Linked DNA regions of Homo sapiens: region 2 is linked to region 1. The links come from fine-mapping of genetic effects on gene expression. Tissue or cell type: visceral fat. Region 1 holds a variant in brackets; the other region holds the start of a gene. All regions are shown on one strand. Distances are between the middles of the regions.

Region 1 (3,015 bases):
TGTGTAGTAATTGGTAGAGAAAGCCAGGGATAACTGTATTATCTAAATTCGTATTTTCCTGTGAAACAATAATGTTTGCAGCAAGTTAAAGTGTGAAGAACCTTCATCATAGAAGGTTATGGAGGTATAGCAGTAGTGGTGGGTGGGTACTGAGACTTCTGTGTGTAGGTATAAGCTGGCTTATGAAAATCTAGGCAAAGAAATGTGTGCGTCTGCGGATATAGGAAAAAAACTCAGTTTCTCCTATACACTCACAACACAAGCAGCACAGAAAACTTCTGTGACCTCTGGTCAGCAAAATGTGTGGGGATTCTCTCCACCAGCAACCACTCAGTTCTGCAGAGGACACCAGCTGGGTGTCCTCCAATTCATTTCACTTCTGATACTACTTGAAGATAGTGTCCCATCCCACAGGTTGAGGGTGCAATCTCACAAGACTGCCCCCCACTTCTGATGCCCATCGCAAGCCCCAGGTTGTTTTACCTGTGCTTCCAACTAACCAACCAGAAAGCAGGGTTCCCATAACCCCCTCCTTGGGTGTGATTAACTTGCTAGAGGGACTCACAGAACTAGAGAAACACATTTACGAGTTTATTATCAAGGATATTACAAAGGATACAGAGAGAGATACATAGGGCGAGGTTATGTGAGAAGGGGCACAGAGCTTCTATGCCGTCTCTGGGCATGTTACCCTCCAGAAACCTGTAAGTGTTCCCCTGTTTGGAAGCTTTCTGAACCAGTCCTTTGGGTATTTATAGAAGCTTCATTACATAGCATGGTTGATTACATCATTGGACATTGATGATCAACTTAACTTTCATCCCCTCTCCCTTCCTCAGTGGTTGGGGGATGGGCTGAAAGTCCCCACCCTCTAATCCTGCCTTTTCTTTCCAGTGACCAGCCGCCATCCTGAGGCTACCTAGGGGCTGCCAGGCAGTGGTTAATTCATTAGCATATGTAAAGACAAAAAAAAAAGACATCACTTTGGATATTCCAAGCATTTTTTTTTTTTTTTTTTGAGATGGAGTTTTGCTCTGTCACCTAGGCTGGAGTGTAGTGGTGTGATCTTGGCTTACTGCAACCTCTGCCTCCCGGGTTCGAGAGATTCTCCTGCCTCAGCCTCCCAAGTACCTGGGACTTCAGGCGCATGCCACCATGCCTGGCTAATTTTTGTATTTTTAGTAGAGATGGGGTTTCACCGTGTTGGCCAGGCTGGTCTCTAACTCCTGACCTCAAGTGATCCGCCCTCCTCAGCCTCCCAAAGTGCTGGGATTACAGGCATGAGCCACCATGCCGGCCTGGATATTCCAAGGATTTTAAGAGTTGCATTCCAGGAAATAGGGTTGAAGATCAAACATATATTTTACAATATCACAGTGTATGTATATGCCGATACCTGTAGCTGAGATTCTTCAATACATGGAATAACTACTTCAAGTTTAAAGGCAAAAGTCAGGAACCAAAAAATATATATGATCATTAATGTGCATTGTAGAACCTTTTGGTCTTTTGGCTGGAGGTATTTTAAACAGATCATTAGAAGAATTCAGTTAAGAATGTTAAAAGGAAAACAGTGATCTAGTCTACGTTTGGTATCTGGGGTTTTCCCTGCTATGATTTTACTTATTTTGTGCCATTGTCCCAAATCAGGAAAAGAAAACACTCTGGGATTAGAAATTGCTCTAATTATTCATTCAGAGGGTTAACTTTTTTGTTTTTGTTTTTTTGAAACAGAGTCTCACTCTGTCGCCCAGACTGGAGTGTAGTGCTAGGATCTCGGCTCACTGCACTTCTGTTTCCTGGGTTCAAGCCATC[C/T]TCCTGCCTCAGCTTCCTGAGTAGCTGGGACTACAGGCATGTGCCACCACACCCGGCTAATTTTTACATTTTTAGTAGAGACAGGGTTTTGCCATGTTGGCCAGGCTGGTCTCGAACTCCTTATCTCAGGCGATCTGTCTGCCTCAGCCTCCCAAAGTGCTGGGATTACAGGTGTGAGCCACCACGCACAGCCCAAAAGGTTAACATTTTAAAAATCAGCTTTTTTTTTTTACTAGATTTAGGTTGACTGTTTTCTGCTTGTTTGATTTTTTTTGTTTGTTCCTCTCTAGGAAGCTATTTTGCCAGCCACTTCATTATGGGAGGAGAGAAGTTTGACTCAACTCATCCTGAAGGTTACCTGTTTGGAGAGAACAGCGATCTGAACTTTCTGGGGAACAGACCAGTTGTGGTATGGCTGTAATCAGTTTACTCCTACTTGGAGCTTAAGTGGCCAATTCAAAAAATGTAACAAAAATAAGTTTGCAGTTGCTTGTTCAGCAGTTTGTAGCTTGGTCTGAGTTGAGAGAGATGCACTAGAAGACAAACTGCAGCCTCCTTGGTTGTATGGGATCTCTTGTTGCTAGAGGACTGGAAGAGCTCCTGGAGTCTTGTGAGGGAGAGGATGAGTCTCACAAATTAAGCTAGGACAGATCTCTCCCTGTCACCTCTTTAGGCAACCCTTTTCCAAGGGCTTACCTTTTTTTTTTTTCTTCATGGCACTTAACACCAACCTTTTATTGATTTGTCTCTTTCTCTGCTTATTGTCTGCCTCCTCCTCTAGAACGTAAGTTTCATAAGGCAAGGACTGTTTTTACTGTAGTATCCCAAACCTAGAACAAAGCCTGGCACGTAATGTTAAGCCCTTAATAAATGATTGTTGAATGAATGACTGAAAATTTTTCTCTTGATATATGAGTTGATATGAGAATACATTTCTCTCACTTGTTCCTTCTCATAAATTTCTATTGCGCACCTTCTCTGCATCATGCAGGAGGCTTTGTAATAATAGCCGCCAGGTGGCTATTGAGTGGCTACCGTGTGCTAGGAAGGTCCTAGAGACCCCTGTTCCATATGAAGACCACTTGACTTAGGACTTATCACTCTATTTTATAAGCGAGAGAACTGAGGTGTTCAGAGAGATGAATAATGACAGAAGCTAGGAAGTGCACACTATGTTCTAAGCACTGTTCTAAGGGTTTT
Region 2 (2,753 bases), 27 kb before region 1:
CGGTGGCTCACGCCTGTAATCCCAGCGCTTTGGGGGGCGGAGGTCAGGAATTGGAGACCAGTCTGGCCAGCATGGTGAAACCCCATCTCTACTAAAAGTAGAAAAATTAGCCGGGTGTGGTGGCACATGCCCGTAGTCTCAGCTACTCGGGAGGCTGAGGCAGGAGAATCCCTTGAACCCAGGAGGCGGAGGTTGCAGTGAGCTGAGATCACGCCACTGCACTCCAGCCTGGGCGACAGAGGGAGACTCCGTCTCAAAACACAGAAAAACAAAAACAAAATATAACCAGGAAAGACCTAGACTCCGTAAAATAGCTTTACAAACCTAATCAAGGGAACCAGACACCCCAAACTGTACTTCGAACACTGTTGAAAAGTTGTGAAAGTCATGTTCTAGCAGTTGAAATGTTTGCTGATCAGTCCACTCTCTCAGGAAAAAAAACACCAGACCCACAAAGAAAATAGAAGGTTTAAAACACAAATGTCTGTAATTAAGCAATGGAATGACGTCTTCCGCCGGCCCAAGCTTCCCACTGTTGTGTGTGTTTTTATCAACAGGAGCTCCCGGTTCTGCCTGGCCCGGTTCGCTTTCGCCTGCGTTGACTCTCTTGGCACTCAGGCCTTTCCAAAGTTTCCGGGGTCCCGTTTCCACGATACAGACAGAGGCTGGATGTCTTGATCTTATCCTCAGTCGATGTTCTCCTAACTTTAGGGCTACAAGGAGCCTTAAACAGCATGTATAGAGTTGGGAGCGCTTTGAATAGACGCACGTGAGAGGGAGGCGGCATCTTCCTAGCCGGTCACCAGCATTAACACGGGGCAGGAGACATGCGAATGCACCGTGGGACCCCTCTCCCTACCCCCCTGCATGAGATTTCCGAAGACCTCCGCCGGCCGACGCTGAGGGGCGGGGTTGGGAAGGCTTCCTCCAGGCGCGGGAGCAGCGGAGCGGGGACCGCCCGCTTTGGGACGCCCAGGACAATGGCGAGCGAGCTCCCGGCCAGTCCTCGCGGACCGCGGGAGGGGGCGGCTCCCTGCGCGGTAATCCGAGCCGGGATAAACAGGCGCGGAGGGGCGACGCGTCCCGGCCGGGTGCAGCGCTCGTCTCCTGGGGTCCCAGCTCCGGCCGGTCCCGCCCCGCCCCGCCGCGGGCACCCGGCCGCGCCCCCGTCCCCGTCGCGAGTCCCCGCCCACGCCCACGCCCCCGCCGCGAGGCCCTGGGCCGCGTCCACGCGCGCCGAGTCCAGCCGCGGCTCCCCGCGCGAGGCACGCGCCGCCGGCTCCTGCTGCAGTCCCGCGCTCATTGGCTGCTCCGGCGCGGGCGCTCCCGCCCCGCCTCGCCATTGGCTGGGGCCGCCGCGGTCCCCGCGCGGAGCGGCCGCTGACATCACGCGGCCTGAGGCGGCGGCGGCGCCCCCGGCCCAGACCCGCAGCCCCCTTGGCAGAGGCGCCGCCGCGGTGCCCGGCGGAGGATGGTGCGCGGCGCGCCGGGGGCTCCCCGCCGCCAGAGCCGCAGCGCCGCAGCGGAGCCGGCCGCGGCGGGCAGTCGGCCCCCGCACCGGGCGCGGGGCGGGCGGCCGCGGTGAAGCGCGGAGGGCGGCGCGGGCACCGGGGCCGGGCCGGGGCTGCAGCCGCAGCGGCCATGGGGGCCCTGACGAGCCGGCAGCACGCGGGCGTGGAGGAGGTGGACATCCCGTCTAATTCCGTGTACCGCTACCCGCCCAAGTCCGGTGAGGGCGGGCGGGCGCCGCAGCCGCGAGGAGGGAGAGGGGCAGGGGCAGGGGTCTGGGTCGGGACGGCCTGAGGGGGCCCCGCGGGTCTTCGGGGACTCAGTGGTTGCGGACGCTCCGAAACGGTCTTCGAGCGCGGGAGGTCTTCGAGAAGGCCGAGGTCTCCCCCGCCCCGGGCGAATTAGCCCAAGGGGCGTCCTGCCGGGTCTAGCAGGGTCACCGAGGGCACCGAGCCCCTCCACGGGAGGACGGGAGCGGCCTCCATTGTAATCGGCCCCGTGACGGGGACGCGTGCCCGCAGGGACCGAGGCTCCTGGGGAGCGGGGCTGCGGCGTCGTAGGCGAGGTCGGCGCCCCGCACGGACCCGGCCGGCCCGGCCCAAAGCCTACCTGCCTCGCGGGGTCCGAGGGCCGCGAGGGAGGCGACCTCGGCATCCAAACAGGCACTTGCGCCAGGTGCTATCCCTGCGCTGCCGTCTCCTGGCCTCTGGAAAGGTTAGAATTAGGTTTCTCCTGGAAAAGCTTCCATTGCCTGCTGAAGGATGGAAGCCAAACAGGCATTTGCAGTGCTGGTGCTTTTGCAGAGGCTGTCAGAAGCCGGGGGGTGGGGGGGGTGGTGGTGGTGGAAAGTAACAGAAATGTTTGGGAATCTGAGTATCAGAGTTACTCGGATTGCCCCTTTGCTAGCGTAGTGGCAAGCCTGGGTTTTGGAGTGGGACCAGCTCTGGGACAGGGCAGAGGTATTGGAAACGTATAGAAGTATGTTTGTTATTAGAATCATCCCTTCACTTAAATGTCTCTAGCCTCTGGATTGTGGTATCAGCATTGGAGGTGGAGGAGGATTTTGACAGCAAAGCAGAGAATCACAAGGTAGTTCAGTTATGTGAGCACCGGCCAGTATGAATTGCATGACCTAGCCGGTGTTTACTTTTAATTGCAAGTAGTTTTATTTTAATTAATTACTTTTAATTTTATTCTCAAGACTTCTGAGGATGAATGGCTGCGACATTCTGTCTGCTTAGGAC

Evidence for each region. PIP is the estimated chance that this variant, and not a neighbour inherited with it, causes the effect.
Region 2: it holds the start of RNF157, and the variant in region 1 is the best candidate, but not a certain one, in a credible set for the expression of RNF157 in visceral fat (GTEx, PIP 0.83).

What each region holds. Positions count from the first base shown.
Region 1 is chr17:76,211,573-76,214,587 of GRCh38, reverse strand. RNF157 (ring finger protein 157) reads left to right here. Exons shown (of 19, transcript NM_052916.3): 2 at 2,106-2,224. Among named protein-coding and RNA genes, the nearest start is that of RNF157, 27 kb to the left of the region's middle. The variant C/T (reference allele first, on the strand shown) is at 1,816.
Region 2 is chr17:76,239,129-76,241,881 of GRCh38, reverse strand. RNF157 (ring finger protein 157) reads left to right here and starts at 1,389. Exons shown (of 19, transcript NM_052916.3): 1 at 1,389-1,729. The coding sequence starts at 1,642. LOC105371896 (a long non-coding RNA gene) reads left to right here. Exons shown (of 6, transcript XR_007065913.1): 6 at 1-1,020. RefSeq lists silencers at 1,215-1,284, 1,305-1,444 and an enhancer at 1,749-2,421.